2 separate regions of the Homo sapiens genome follow, and region 1 is linked to region 2. Evidence: fine-mapped expression QTL. A gene starts in region 2. The other region holds a variant in brackets. All regions are shown on one strand. Distances are between the middles of the regions. Region 1 overlaps CACNA2D1 (calcium voltage-gated channel auxiliary subunit alpha2delta 1). Region 2 holds the start of CACNA2D1 (calcium voltage-gated channel auxiliary subunit alpha2delta 1).

Region 1 (8,347 bases), 250 kb after region 2:
TAAAAGTAATTGTAGCTGAATGTTTAATTCTTCTGAAAACTGGTAACTTGTCTGTGTCGTCCCTGAGGCACATGCCACGTAACAACAGAATTTATGGAGAATGACCAGGATTATCAAAGCCTTGTTATTTCTTTAGTGCTTGTGACACATCACACTGCATTAAAAGTGATTTCTACCATACAACAAAAAGACCATTTGTAATTCATTTCTCAGCCCCATATACTAGAAAATTATATGCCTGTCAATTCTAGTTTTTGTGGTATAATGCCTTACATTTATGTTATGATTTATAGTTACAAAGTTGTAGCACATACATGATTTTAAACATTTCTAATAATCTTGAATTAGAAAAATCAGTTTATTTTGGAAATGTATTCTGGAGTGCTTAAAACATCAGATGTATTATTCAGAGAACCGCTGATAGGGTGAAATGTAAAATTTCCTGTTCCTATTCATCTCATAAATTTTCCTTAAACCTTAGGTTTTGTTTCTGAATACTCTTATATAATATATTCTGTCACAATAACAATGTTCCTAATTAAGTAATCTTTAGTAAAGATTAATTTTTCTATAAATTTTCATATCCAACGATGTAACCTTGGAGACACATTTTCTTCTCTGTGTCAAAACAATTAAGGCATTTATTTGATAGCAACATGCTTAAACTAGCCACAATTTTTCACTGATTCTTATTATTCAGTACTTTGACTTTAAAAAAATTACATGAGAAAAGGATACTTTTCCTCAGAAAATTGAAGAGTGTAAAATCTATTTATTCTTAGATAATTCCCTTGCTCAATTCCCCAAAGAAGTGTATTATTTCAAATTTGTATTACTTTTCTCCCACTCTACCATATCCTCTTTCATTTTAAGGCAACCATCCTCTATTCACATATATAAAAAAAAAAAATGTACCAGATGAGAACTACCTCAGTTTCTTTGCCCAGACTATTCTCATCCTGAATCGTCTTTATCTATCTCTCTTATTTCTGACAAATATAAATCGGAGTCTATTTTGTTCAAGTCTAACAATCTTCTCTTGTTATTTCAGTCTTTTTCCTTACTCTCTAATGACTTTGCTCCCCTCCATCAACTGTCCCTGTTTTCTCTTGTGCTTCCTCTAAGGCAAACAAATCTACAAACAGACCAACTAAAACAACAAGCTCCAAGCCTAAATCATCTCAATTCTCCTTCCTTAGTATTTCTTGAATCTTTTTCCACAGCACCATTCCTAATGGCACTAGTTAGATCTGTGATCCTGTCGTTTTCTCCCTACTGTAGCAATGCAGTAGCTATCCAACAGGAATCCCCACCTCAGGTGTGTCCAGCTAGTCTGCCTTTTCAAGCATCCCCCATAGAATTCTTCTAGCATTGTCTTTATGACAAAATCCAAACCTCATAGTGTAGTAAACTGGTTGTTAACATGGCACTCTTCCTGTCTGGAAATTTTGGCTAGGCCCCAAAGCTAGTGGTTATGAATGCCAAACATCCTTACTTTAAAGAGAGTTATTAGACCATGTATATGGACTTGCAAAATGGTTCCAAAATCTAGTTCTAACCTTAGCTAATCTTCTACTTTGAAGCTATGTAATAAAAAGCAAAGAGGATAGTTGGTTGGCTGTGGGTAGGGGGATCAAGATGTCTCCAACCAAAAGAGGTGGTTGTAAATTAGTAGAATCCAGATTTTATGGACAGGCTCACTGAGTAGCTGGGGAAGGAATCACAATTGCTCAGTGACTACATTTAGATAACCCCAAAGTGGGAATTTCTGCAGAACTGCAAAAGCTTTCCAGGAGACAGTCAGCACTAGAATTTCTCTACACCCACCCACTGCAAAGTGTAACTCTCTGCAGCTGAGTTAAGACCCTTTCTGCCATTATCTATCCTCCCTCCTCTGATCCAGTCATTAAGAGTTGCAAAAGTGTGGGATGGTAGTCACAGAGCTATGACTCTGTGGTGCAGATTATTCTGTGAACTTCTCAGGGTGAGCCAGGCCAAGCTGTGAAAGGGTTGAAAGGTTTCAATTTGGTAGAGATTTTGTTAGGCCAGAGGGTTTTTTTTTTTTTAAATACATGAAATTGATTAGGAAATTATAGACTCTGGGAGAGATAACATGTTGGGTTAGAGACAGGAGATTTCACCTGGCAAAGAAGAAAGGCAATTTATTTGTCCCTACAATATTCTACAGACCTAAAAACAAAAATCCAGTTCTAATAGTAAGCACGATCTTTAAACAGAATATTTGTTTCCTATTTAACTACCCTCATCTTTCACCACTATCCCTCCAATCTCCAATCTGTGCTGTATCAATATACTTTGGACCTCCTTCCTTCATCACCAAAGGTGATTCCTGAATCTTTATTTGGAATCACCTTTTCAATGGAACCTTCCCTAATACCATATCCCACCCCATTTTACATGAAGTGTTACCTTATGTGTTCTACGGCACACCACTCACTTCCATCCCATCACGCATCAACCCAGATAGTGATGGTCTCATCTATTTCCCTTATGAGACTGTTCTATAATCTAGGGACTCTCTTTTAAATCTGTATCCCTGGTACTAATTGCAGTGTCATTAACAGAGTATAGGTTAAATAATTTTGTAAACAAAAATTAATTGGTAATGGAATCATTGAGTTGAGATAAAATATAAATCTGAAAAGATACTTTAAGTATATGTCACTAGAAAGAGAAACAGAATTGCACATGAAACATTTTCTGTAAAAGATAAAAGAGTGCAACTTAAAGTGCTGTCTGTGCCTATTACGATTATCTTCATATGACTACTTGGAATCTCAGTCTCTGTCTCTATCTCCCCCGCCCCCCATTCTTGTGCTGGATAGATGTGAAAGTACAATACTGCTTACCTTTCATTATCAAGTATTTTCACAGACTCTTACTTCATTCTAGAATGCACTTGAGAGTTATTTCTTATCGTAGGTTTTCCAGTTCTTCCTCACAGATAATTTTACTGTTATCTCTTCTCCCTGATCTGACCTTTGCCAGACATTGTTGTTACTGCTGCCCTTTCCCCAAATCTGAAGATGTTTTCAAAATTAATTTTTCATTAAAATATATCGTAATATATATAAATGTCAAATGAAAACATGATAGAGTATTGTTTGCCCTCTCTTCTCATTAAAACTTAGAATGTTTCAGCTTGGACTTTAGTTTAATAGCTATTATTCATTAAAAAAAGTGAAGATATAAAGAAAAGTGGATGTGAGATCCACTATGTAACTACTTCAACTCTTGCTTGGTATTTACATATGCATACTCCAGCATACACACAAATCATTAAGAGAAGAAACTTTTTTGTTTTGTTTTTTGCCATTCCAGCATAAGAAATAAGGACATATTTTGCTATCCCTGCATGAACATGCAGGAGTTTGTCATTTTTGGCACAAAGCAAAATGAGGTTTGTTATCTTCAAGGGTGGGGTTGAGACA[G/A]TCACCGGAGCTCTTGAGCCATAGCTTGACTACCAACTGGAGGTTGCTTATGATAATTGATAACCCAGCCCTACGGAGCAGCTGATGGGAGAATGATTCACACTCTGTCACTGGCTCATGCCAACTCATGTAGAAATACACACAGCTTTTAGCAGCTACTTTGAAATCTTACTCTAATAAAGTCATTTAGCTTTAGAAATTTAATTCAACACAAACTACTTCCTTTAAGGAGATTCGTTACCAGAACAACAATGTAGCCTTATAATTTTGATGCCAAAATTATTATAGTGGGATTCCAGTGCACCATGAAAGCAATTATACAGATATGATGCTTTTAAAAATATGACATAAAGTTGATAAAATATGCATAATAGATAAAGGGAATGTTTTGAAAGCCATTATTTGTAAGTAAATACGTTCTTTGATTTTATTCAGCACCACAAAATGAATTTTCAGGTTGTAAAGCAGCTAATCAAGACAAACACAAAACATATCAAGTATGTAACTGGCTACTATGTTAAACAAATTTGTTTTCAATAATGCCTACTCTTCAAATACTGAATTTCGCTTGTTGGGGGGAAGATAAATTTCAGCAAACCTGCGAAACATTGTAAAAGTGATTCGGAAAAATCTAACCATAAAATGCAATGCCTTAACTTTTTTGTACTCACTTCAATATAGTATGCATTTCCATAGATTATGGTGTGCTCAAGTGTAATAAATGTTTCATTTAATTATTTTTAAATCTACTTAAAAAATGAGACATTTCATTTTGGTTCACGCTTAATCTTTTTAGACTTAAATATATTTCCACAAACCCACGCATCTCAAAAGATTTGGCAAACTACAATGATAGCAATTATTGTTAATTCCAAAAACTGCTAAAATATCCCAGATATTTGTCAGTTTGCCCGGGACTATTTTGGACACACATGATAGAAGCTATTAATTTTTTATTGTGATGTTGCCATTAGTAATTTTAAGAAGTAGGTAATCTGTAAATGTGCATTGTTCAAAGTATCTTCAGAAAAATTTCAAACTGTGTCTAACATTAATAGTATTTAATTATTTATCGTACCTGTTTGGCCTTATTTACTTGAATTATGAGGGGTTGAAGCCCGGGTAAAGTGCAATTCTCATTCCAAAGCTAACTATAAAGCTTCGGCTAAATCCTTGTACGACCCCTTGAGAACAGCACATCACTTACCAATGTATTTTAGCAGAAGAAGCATCAGACAAAGGGGACTGGGAATTAGAACAAATGGGATCTAGTTCCAGTTTAACTGATGCTTTCAAGACGACCTTCATAAAATAACTTTTTGTTTTAAAGAAATTATGACTAAAATATCATTAACCATCTAATATTTTCTGTACAAGTCAAGGTAGATGGTACTATGCAAGATAATAATATATTCTGGAGCAATCTCAAAGTACGGAGATCAAATGTATAGTGTTTGTGTGTGTGTGTGTGTGTTTAGTTAGAGTTACAGAAGAAAAGTTAGATGTTTCAGGAAAAAAAAAAAAAGGAACAGCTGCTCAGGTTAATAGCATTTGAAAATCTACATAGAATCAACAGAGAGTATTGCATAGAAGACATAGGATTATCTGCCAGGCAGTTGGCTCAGTCAAAGAGAGTTCATTTAATACTTACACATCTTGAATTCTTAATTTCTGTTTTCTTCACTGATTCTGTTGATCTTTCTACTTTATACACAGATATTTCTCAAGGATTGACCCTTGATTCTTTTTACCTGTCTCTATATTCACACACACACACACACACACACACACACACACACACACACACACACACAAACACAAACACACATACACACACACACAGACATATAGACATATATATATATATATATATATTTCCCCTGTTTTTTGTTAACTAGATAACTTGGGGCCTGTTCTGAATGAGTTTCTAAGCATTTAGTATGGTGATAGTAATACCTATTAATAGAGTTATTGTGAAATTACCTAATACAATGCTTGGCACTCAGCACTAAGTGATTTTATGTCATATCCACCTTGTTTTCTTGTTTGGAATCTTACTGAATATGAAATGACTTTTGGACACAAAGTCATTCTATTTAGGTTTTTTTTTTCATTTTCTGTTTCTTTACATTAAATTTGAAAGTTCTTGAGGGCAGGAACTGTATTTTCATGCCTAAAGTTATGTATCTGATAGTACAGAGTAAGGTAAAGAGGGATAGAGAAGAGTCAAACATTTTTTTAGATGCATGAATTTGTGAAAATACAACTTTAAGAAGTTTTCCACAGTATGTGGTGAGATTTCTTTGCATGATAGAGTGCTTACACTCACAATAGATGATAATAATCATTCTTTGTATTTCTAAGATGAATATGAAACCTCATTGAGAGAAAAGCGTATCTCATTAAGCTTGTATGTTACAGCCTATTTCTTTGAAATATATTCATTAATAAAATAATTCACTTTTTCTCTTTTTTTGATTTACTTTATTCATGGTTTTTGATTTGCTGCTTTCAAACGTCTGTTTATACTTGCAGTTGATTATATGAACACATACACACGTATGCCTCTAACAAGAGAGGAAGGAAATTATTTATTCATGTTATGACTTTGATTTTTTTCTTTAACTTTTCCTTTGATTTAAAAATATATAAAACATTTGTAAAGTCAAAGTTCTTCCTGATAGAAGTTAGGAATGAGTAGAAGGAAAAACCAAAGATTTTACACGGGGTAATTGTCAAAGCAACTTGCCTTTGTGTTCTTTGAGTTATAAGGTGGTGATTAGGTTTTCAGGTTTAGAGAAGTGTGAGACAACCTAATTAAACACCTTTTTGCTGAAAAGCAGCTCGATAAATTCAGATTGCTCTGGGAAATTCTCAAAGCTTTTATCAGAAAGCTAATACTACAAAAATCTTTTAAACTAATCGCTTTTGAAAAATTATTTCCCAGACTGGAAATAAATTATATTTGAATAAGTAAGCATGCTAGAATTATTATATTGAATAGATGCAAAGATGTAACTTAAGTTTAAAAAAGTACAATCAATAAATGTATAGTAAGCACGTGTTTTCTAATAATGATTAAGGCAAATTACTAATTTTGTGATCCCTTAACTCTTTGATTTCTCTTTATAAATCCTGTATAAATAATTATGTAATAAGGGGATTGTGAGTTTGGGATGAGAGAAAAGCTAAAATCTTTACAGATTATAGACGTTCTTGAGTTGTACATAAGACCTTTATCTTCTTTATCAGCATAGTGTTTATTATTGCCCCCATTAACAGTATACCTATTAAAAGTTAATTGTTTACCTATACATATACAATGGAACATATTTTGTAATTTTGTAGTGTCATTCAATGGCATTCTCTCCCTTTTAAGAAAAATGTTTTTTGATGGCTCCTGTTGACTTTTCAAGGCTCAAAGAGAAATTTTCTTTAAGTAATCTAGTTTGTCATTCTGTAAAATGATAGGGATAGATCCAATGACTCCTAAGATCCCTTCCAGTCTCTAACAATATATGATTCTATGAATTTCTTTTTTTCATAATACCAAGAGGAAATGGTGATGGATTTAAGGATATTGGGAGGATTTCATTATTTTATTGAAAATGGCCCAAAGCTCTATCAAAAAAAATTTGGTATGAAAGTATTACAGTTTGAAAAGGACTTGGAATTGCAGTTGGATGATGGGTAAGGGTGGTGTAAACAAATCCACACACTACTGGGTTGATTAAATTTATCTTTCTGGGAATTGAATATATGGTGATGTTTCATATTACAAATGAGATTTGAGGAAAGTTAATGAAGCTGAATCCTCATTAGGTAGCCATGCTATTCTGCATCTTTGATTGATAGCAAAGAATTGCTATTGTCTTTTAGTAATTAATCTCCTTTGTGCCACGGAGCAGATTTTTTTCTTAAAACAATTTATTCATAGTTAATACAATTATGGATATGAAGCAATTAAACATTGGCTCACATTCAGGATAAAGAAAAACTAATTGATAAACTAAATTCCTCATGCATAGAACAAGAGTAATGCAGTCTTGCTGTTGAGATGATTCTTTCTGTGGAGGTGAATAACAATATCATTTTAGTGACTAAGATTGTTTACTTTCAATTATAAAACTTTGCTTCTCTGACTCGTAACAACCCTTCACTAAAGAGGCCCAAAATGACAGTTTCTCATCATTGAATACTACACAGTTCTGTTGCAAACTTCATAACAGAATTGTTTCAAGGCAAAGTAGGGTTACCTAATTATTTGAAATGAAAAACTAATTCTAAATCACTTATCTTTGAAATATAAGCATAATAACGTTTGTGGCTCCTATCATTTCATTTATCTAATGTAAACCTTTTATTAATAACTTTTACAATTAGTTTAATTTTTTTCCTAAAGCAAAATCATGAGTAATCTTAATGCAGCTACTTTGCATTTTTAATCTATTTCCAGCACTAGCCTGGTAAAAAAGTCAGTGACAATGAATGAAAGTTGAAATTTTTCTTACACAAATTTTTTTGTCCGTATTCTTCTCCCTTATGTATTCTTTTCTGTGTCAAGCTCTTTTATACTCTTCCATTATTCCACAGTATTCACTCCTCTGAGTCTTTACTCAGACTTGCCATATTCAGTTGGTATCTCTTATTTTAAAATAATTCTTCTATTCTCCTTTGTTTTTAACCTTTGCCAAAATTTTTCATTTTCTAGTATCTTGTTTATCTTCAATCTATGAAAGATATAATAAATTAATTCATGGTAAATTTAGTGCCAAGAAAATTTCTCATCGTGATTATTTCCATAGATATTTGTATTTAAGAGCAGTTTTGGAATAGGTAATGCATATTTGGGCCAAATGAGTGAATCTTAGATAGAGAAACTTAGAGCACTATCA
Region 2 (8,347 bases):
CCATTTGTCTTTACTTTTCACTTTCTCTGGCACACATCTTTGTGTGCATGGAAGCATAGTACCATCTCAAATCACAAGTTTTTCTGATTATGACTCTTAACAGTATGTCTATCTCAGAGATGAGTCATATACACCTATATGCATACAAGCAAATAAGGCCCTTTGTCAAGGTTTTCACCTTAGTTTTCTTAAGATGTGGAAAGTAATATGAAAGTTAATTATTTCCTTTAAATTTTTTTGGCTAAGGATAATTATTTTCCTTTTCAGTGTTTGGGTTTGCCTGTTTGTACATGAGAACAAAAAGAGAGAAAGATTAAATAATTTCAATTAGGTTACTCTGTCTCATTTTTTCAGGCAAAATGTTGAAGAAATTAGATTTGATTTACTGAAAAAAATCACAGAAAAATGTTTGTACATACATATACTCATATAAAAACTACAACAAAAACATAATTTTATGCTGCCAACATTCACAGTATCACCTAAAAAAAGGAAGAATAAACATTTCATGGCAATCAAGTTTTTATTGTTCTTTATTCACTTTTAGTTACTAAAAAATGAAATGTATATGAACAAATTAAATATATGAATTAAAAACTGAGATTTAGCCAAAAGGTGCCAATCGCAAGTTTGTTGTAGGTAAAGGTCAGTGATTTGCATGAATTAAATCTCTTTAAACTTTGTTCTAGAAATGATTAAATGCAAAAATCTCCTGCAATACTTCACTAACTTACTAATTAAAATATTTCTTCTTAAATGAATAGTAGATACTGATTTGCGACTTCTTGCTCATTTATAACCTGTAATATATTAACTGTATTTACTGCACATTTACATCATTTACTATAACAGCTTAACAACAATCCTTATGATTTGTCAACATGTTGAACAGCAAATTTATCGTGATTAAGCAAAATTTTATTAAGATTAATGGGATATAATCTGATTTTAAGGGAATTTTCCAAAATAACAGAACTGAGCTGAAAAAATGCATTGTTATGGGTATAGTTAATCCAACAGAAACCTAATGCTATGTTATGGAAATGGTCTTCTTTTAGCTGTCATACATTTAAAAAAAAACCACATTTTGAATATCCTCAATAAGAAGGTTTAGATTGGTAAAAAGCAATTAATAGCAAACCTCGCAACAGAGTATTAAACAATGATTTAGGCTCACAGATGATAACCAACCCTTTCAGTAAGAATTGTAGAAGCAATATCTTTCCTCAACAGCTTCACATATTGGAGAACTCAGTGCTTCAACAGAGTGATCCAAAGAAATTGAGATTTGGCTCAAAGGCCAACAAAGTTAATAATAAAGGCTGACTTACCTTCTCTACAAGCTTATTACATTCTTTTATTCTTTAAGCCCTTTCTCCTAAAGATATAAAATTGGAAACAGTGTACCATAGTGGGAAGTCTGGAGTTGATGTTGAAATAATTGACAGAATATATAACAATGGTATTTTTAGGTAGTGAGGCTATTGATACCAACATATCACATAGACAATAATGGGCATCTCTAATTCTGCTCTTCTTAGTCCTCATGCTGGGGAAGAAAGTCTGCTTTTGAATTATTAAAAATGGAAGAAATGATGGATTTGACTATTTACTTATCTAATTTTGGAGTGGAATGCTATCTTCAGTTATATAAAATATCCCTCCTGAGCTGTAGTTCTCAATCCCATTACATCCCACTTCATCCCTCATTTGCGCAGCTCCTGCTGCCACAGTATCCATGCCTAGCATAAAACAAACTAAGTTAAGTCACGGTGGGGTGCCTTTTGTGAGGCCACTCAGAGTAGAAAGAAACAAAGAGCAAGACAGAGATGCGAAGAACATAAAGAAAACAAATAAGGCATTAAAAAAAGGAGAAATAAGTGGGAAGGAAAAATAAATTCACCAGGCTAAGCATCATAAAATCACACACGCTCTTAAAATTTGGCCAGTAATTAATAGTAGTAGTATTATTATTAGTCTTTGTTTTGGGAGATTGCCTTCAGAGAGCTGGAAAATTCATTTCGAATTAATAAGGGTCTTTTTCTTTCAGAAGCATCTCCTAAAAATAAGAACGGGCTAATTAAAAATCTGACAGCCACCCCGATACTTACAGAATTTTTGCATATGCAGGATAGTCATCACAAATTGTATTCTCTGCACGTCATGTCAAAAGTATTCTCATACACTACTAGAGGGAGCTTAAGAATTTAAGGTGTGCAAGAATATATTTCTATCTTTGGCCCACCAGGGCCCTCTTGTAGGAGGCCTGTGTTGGGCGGGAGAGGCCTAGTCGCAGACCCTGTCTTTTCAAGGAGAAAGCCCGCCACTGCTTCCTCTGAGTCTGGAGATAAAACCAGTCCGGCATTGCTACTCCCTAGCTCTCTCCCCCTCCCTTAATTCCTCCTCTACATTTCAGGCGCATTTCTCAGAGTGCCACCTGTTCCTGCTGCTTACCCTTTTCATGCCTTCGCATTGACAAAAGTGAGCTCACCCTGCGGTAACCTTGTCAGGCAGGGCAGGCCAGTGGCCAGAGCAGGGCGTTAGGACCCTTTTGGAGGTAGTCCCAACTGGGATGCTGCAAAGCGCTTCTCTTACTACTGTCCTCCCTAGATGCAGAATTCGTCCCTCCACCCCTCTGTCCAATGGAACCACAGGGCTGGGAAGATTTTACAGCGTCAGTACTTCTCTGTCCGTCCACAGCCCGGTCCCTGAGGCTCTGTCCTCGCCAGGTGAGCCGAGCAGTACCTGGGCGTGGGACCGCTGGCACAAAGGGCACCCAGCCCCGGCAGAGGCTCTAACCTATGGCACACGCGGGCATATAGTGCCACCTGGTAGAGAGTCAACAGTGGTGCTTTAAAATGCAATACAAACCCCTCCTACATTTGTTGTCAAATCACTTCACGATTCCCAGGCAGGCACTGGATTCTGCGCCTGGGAGTAGGGCTGGGGGGGAACGCTGCCTGCATGTGCAAAAATAACCCCCGAAGACGCGAGCCAAGTCCTGGGTTGGAGCCTCTGCAGCCTGTGGATGCCCGCTGGGCGGCTGGCCGTCCCCCGGGAGCCCCGCGGGGCTGGTCCGCTCCGCCTGCGCACGCCGGGCGGCGGGAGCGAGCCGGCGCCGACTTTGGGAGTTCCTGGCTGCCTTGTATGGAGGGCTGCTCCCGGCCCGTCTCCGCCCGACTGCTCTGACGCCCAGCCCTCCCGCTGCCCACCCCCAGCCGCCTCCCTCTGACTTGCCTAAGAAGCCAGACGGAGCCTCTCGCTTCCACAAGTCTCTCTGCCTGCCATTCCCCGATTCCTGCAGCCACCCCCACCCTCCAGCGCCGTCACCCCTCCTCCGCCCCCGCCCCCGCCTCCGCCTTCGCCTCGGCAATCGGGGGAATAAATCAGGGAGGAAACCGAGAGGGAGAGCGAGAGCGCGCGAGCGCCGGCGGGCTCGCCGAGGTCTGTTTCCAAAGTCGCCCTTGATGGCGGCGGAGGCAAGGCGGCCGCGGCGCGGAGCAGCCGACGCACGCTAGTGGGTCCGCCCGCCACCGCCCCTTCCTCGGCGTCCGCTCCCGCCCTTGCCGTCCCCCGCGCGGCTCCGCGCCTCGGGCCCCGGGCGCAGCCAGCCCTCCAGACGCCCGCGGTCCCGGCGGCGTGTGCTGCTCTTCCTCCGCCCGCGGTTTCCAGCGCCGCTCCTTCCCCCGCTTGGGCAGGGAGGGGGCATTGATCTTCGATCGCGAAGATGGCTGCTGGCTGCCTGCTGGCCTTGACTCTGACACTTTTCCAATCTTTGCTCATCGGCCCCTCGTCGGAGGAGCCGTTCCCTTCGGCCGTCACGTAAGTCGGCGGGCCGGGCAGGGAGCGCCGGCCGAGGGGCGCCGCGGGAGTTGGGGGTGGGGGTCGGTTCCCGAGTCGCGGGGCTTTTCCGCCCGTGGGGGTGGGGAGCGAGCGGCCGGGGAGCCAGGCTCGGATGCGGAGACGCCGGGCAGGCGGTGCGCGCCGCTCGCCGCTGGAATGCGTCCCGAACCGGCGTCTCGGGCGCCTCCACGGGGCCGGGCACTGGGGGCCGACTGTCCCGGGAAGCGCCCGCCGACGACTCGCGGCGTCTCAGCCCGTCTCTAACGGGATTCTCTAGACTTCAGAGTGCAGCCGTACTGGGGAAAAAAGTTTCCAGCCAGCTCACCCGCTCTGATTCAACCCAGTTCAATAAAAAGTTATGTTTTGGTTGGGTAATTTACAAACAGGTAATTTCAGGCTTGCCGAGGTAGCGTGGACTTCCCCCGCACTTGGCCTCGGAGATGCTCTTTAATTGCTGTAGTGCCCAAACTCGTTTTATCCCACGTTACTGGATGCACTTGACAGCCTTCCGATTAGACGCGTGCTGGCTCCCCGCGGCCGAGCGTGCTGTCCACGCAGGGGGCTCGCAGGTACTGGGACCACGCGATCCAACCTCCCCAACCCATTATTTGAAACATCTAAGTGTCGGCAGACACGCGGTCCCTGTTCTTCAAATGAATAGAGCCTATTCTTTGAAGGAGGGACTATTTCCAGTCTCCTACAAATTTTCTTTTATTTTTACCATTTCTAAAATAACTTTTAAAAACCTCGCTGCTGTTCTGGAAATAGAGGGCTTATAGGTAGCTATAGTCACACCACAGGAAGGGAATGAAAAATAATAATTCTCTCCTTTCTTAGCAAAATAGAATCAAACTCAATGGCACATATAAATATATACATATTTTTTAATGCACCGAATAGCCTATCCGGCATTCTGGGAAAGCATTTATTTTGGTTCTTGGAGCTTCTTTAAAGCTTCTAAAGGTAGGTAATCTTAAGTGGATGAGTCACTTTAATGCATTTTACATAACAAAAACAAAGCCCAAGGTAGCTTTCCCGGTATTTATGCTGCTGGGAATTACTTGCTGTCCTTTGTTGGCTGAGTGCTGAATACAGGAGTTTTTGGTGGAAAGTAACAGTGAATCTTTAGCGGTTGAAATCCTGCGGCTATTATTTAAGATTCAGTTTTAAGTATTTATTACCTTAGGTGTCAGTGCAAGAATCTGGAGGATGCACATTCTATCCCGGAGAAGGGGAGTGTCTAATTTTTGTTGTCATTGAGTTACAGTAATGTTCCTCTTTAGATAATCTTCCATAAAACTGATTGCAGATCCTTTTTGTTATGAAGCAAAAGGGTAAATGCCATCTGGAGATCTTCGTTTAATTGGCAGGATGTTCCAGTCAGATATTTTTAAACATAAAAAGAGTAAGAATCACCCTAAGGATGCTTCAGAATTATTTACTCTTATTAAGGCATCACACTTCCATTTAATTTTTTAAGTCTGTTTGTTGCTTGGCCTGTAAAGTGAGAACTCAAATGAGTCGCTTGCATTCTGTGTCAAATAAATAAGTGGCTCTTTAAAAAACAATCACTTCCTAAATGTGTTCCGATTACTCATTTTTACAGTGTTGTTTTTAACTGACAATTTATCAATATTTTTATCATGGGAGGGGATACATCATCATACCATTGGGGAAAACTACAACAAAATACAACCTTTTATTCCTCAACATACTGTGGTAAAATATTAATGTAAAAATCCTTATTGTTAAGAAGAACATCTGCAATAATGCTTTCCTAAAATTATAAGTAAATCAATTTTCATGGTCAGAAATTTACTAGACACAAGAAAGAGTATATATAGTGGGTTAAAATGGGAAGTAGGACATCACAATTTCTTTTCTTTGGAAGGATCTGAAATTTTTTTTAACGATGAAAATTCAAGATATTTTCAAATTATATAAGACATTGATTATTTAATGAATGAAATACTTAATAAAAGGTTTTGTGGAGCGAAGTCAATCTCCTGTAGGTAATCTTAACAATATTTTTGGAAGCCTTCTGCATCTTCAGTTTTTCATTTGAAAAGTTAGTAACACTGTCTTCTGAGGAAAGAACTGATGGTTGACATTTGTACTTCATGTTAGATTTCTGAATAAACTTTATGAAATTAAAAAATGCAATATTTTTCATAAAGATGTGCCATTTGCTTTTCTTTCGAGAAAAGAATTCATATGCACTGTTTAATCAGGACAAATCTCAAATCTTTGGGGGAAAATTTCAAATTTATAAAAACTGAGTGCAAAGACTGTAGTGTCAATAAAGGCAAATTATTATGCTTCTGTATGTAAATTTCTCTCGGAATCATTAGTAAATATTTTTGGGTTTTTTTTTTTGCCAGTTTCATTTTTCACAGAAAAAGTAATGTAAGAAGTTTTTATCAGCTGAAGAGGAAGAGCATGCCATCACACACTATAAAATTAATTATGCACTAATTGGAGTTGGACTTCAATTAGAATTAGTAGTTCAAAGTTTTTTTTTAAAAATATAGAGTGTTTACATTTGTGTGAAGGGCTTAAATTCTATTATGGTAAAACAAATGATGTGTCAGTTAAGTATCTTCTTTCATTTTTTGCTCTCCTGTTTAACATACATTCTAATATAAATTTTCTTTTGGATTAAAGTAGTAGTTAACCTGTTCTAAGAGTTAACACTAAAATAGATGTTTTTCAGACAAGGAAATTTTGATATGATTATTTCTCTGGGTTAGGTGTTTCTTTTGGAAATGTTTGTCTCCCTAAGGTGTGAAACATAAATACATGATATGGTAGCAGCCACATAATGTGTATTGGTTGATATATAAATGGAAAATATATCATTTTTATGCTATAGTATGCACATGTCGTATTGGTATTTTTAAAATGTAGCTTTCAAAAAGGGTAGTTGTCCGTTTTTCTAGAAATAATTTCTTGTCACATGTTAAAAGACTTCTATTTTAATATTTAGAATTACATGTGTGATAGCCAGTATTATAATGGTAATTTAAATTTGTCCTTAATTTTAGAATCTATTTACAAATGCAATTAAAAAATATATAGTTATAACTGTTAATATCAAACTTTTATCTCAGTCACATCAAAATGCCAGTCAGTCTACAATAATTGGCTGAGAGCCTATTGGTATACAGGGATTTTAATATAAAGTGTACAATGGTATAAATATAAAACTAAGAATTGTGGATATCCACAGGAAATAAGCATAAATTCTCATAGAAGTATAGTACTTTTGGCTTTAATTACTTAGGATATTTTTTTTTCCTGTTATTAGAGAAATTTGTATTTAAGGCTATAAAGGAGAAATTTTGTATGTCAGGATATTGTAATGGATATCTGTTCCATGCATTATAAGTGACATAATTATTCTCACTTGAAGTCAGCAGTTTCTGTTTACATTTTACATACACAAGGAAATGTGCCATATGATCAATTATGAGATAAAATATTAAATGTAAAATAAAACCTGAAACAGTGAACATTAATAAACTTTTCTCAAGTCTTTAATTTTGTTCTCATCGGCTTAACCATATAACATTTACTATTCCACAGATGTATGTTTTAAAATATGCAACAATAGATATATTTTTCCACGTAAGTAGTAATATTATGTTAAATTTATTAATGTTACACATAGCTATATGTGTAGCTATTTGGATTGGCATTTGAATGAAAATTAAGCAGACTGAAATGGATATAATTTTTGAAAAAAATGTAAGAAAATACAAGAATCTAAGCATATTATGGTTTATTAAAGGGAAATGAAATGTGCCTTTATTATCTCCCCCTCCCATGGCTTTCATTAATTTAATTTAATAAATATACATAAAATTTGAATATAAAGTAGGTGGTTCATTTTGACAATAGATAAGAGCTTTACAGTTGTTTTCTTCACAACAAACTGACTGTGTAGACATCTTTCTGTTATTTCTCCAACATTGATAAAACTAACAATAAAATACTCTTCTTTCTAGGGTTTACACATAGTAAATTTTTACAAAAACATAACATATGGAAATTATTATTGTGCTAAAATTTAGTATATATAGGAGTATATATTCATAAACAATAATGCATTGAGAAATTTTACAAATAATTTTTACAATAGTGCTCATAACAAACTATATAATTTACATATTCTCTGGAGTATCATTATATAAAGCACCTCTTAAGGTTTCTCTTGATTTCCCTATTTCTCAATATAGATGCAAGTTTCCAAGAATTTCCTAGCACATGTCTTCAAGCTATTTATAACTTTAAATTGGAGATTTAAATGGGTAAAATGAAACATATCTTAGGCAAATCATGCAATTTGTTGATCTCATTTAATGTCTTATATGTATGGACATAAGCATTTCTAACGTAAGTATACATAACATTTTGGGAAAAAAATCAGAATTTCAGTATTTCAAAAAAGTAACATTTTATTGTTATTAAAATGACAACGGTCCATTATTTCTATTAAAAGAGC

Evidence for each region. PIP is the estimated chance that this variant, and not a neighbour inherited with it, causes the effect.
Region 1: its variant is fine-mapped to the expression of CACNA2D1 in sun-exposed skin (GTEx, PIP above 0.99). The same link has a PIP of 0.9 or more in unexposed skin.

What each region holds. Positions count from the first base shown.
Region 1 is chr7:82,189,380-82,197,726 of GRCh38, reverse strand. All of the region lies in intron 3 of CACNA2D1 (calcium voltage-gated channel auxiliary subunit alpha2delta 1), which reads left to right. Among named protein-coding and RNA genes, the nearest start is that of CACNA2D1-AS1, 180 kb to the right of the region's middle. The variant G/A (reference allele first, on the strand shown) is at 3,453.
Region 2 is chr7:82,438,840-82,447,186 of GRCh38, reverse strand. CACNA2D1 (calcium voltage-gated channel auxiliary subunit alpha2delta 1) reads left to right here and starts at 3,410. Exons shown (of 39, transcript NM_000722.4): 1 at 3,410-3,822. The coding sequence starts at 3,728. RefSeq lists an enhancer at 4,405-4,968.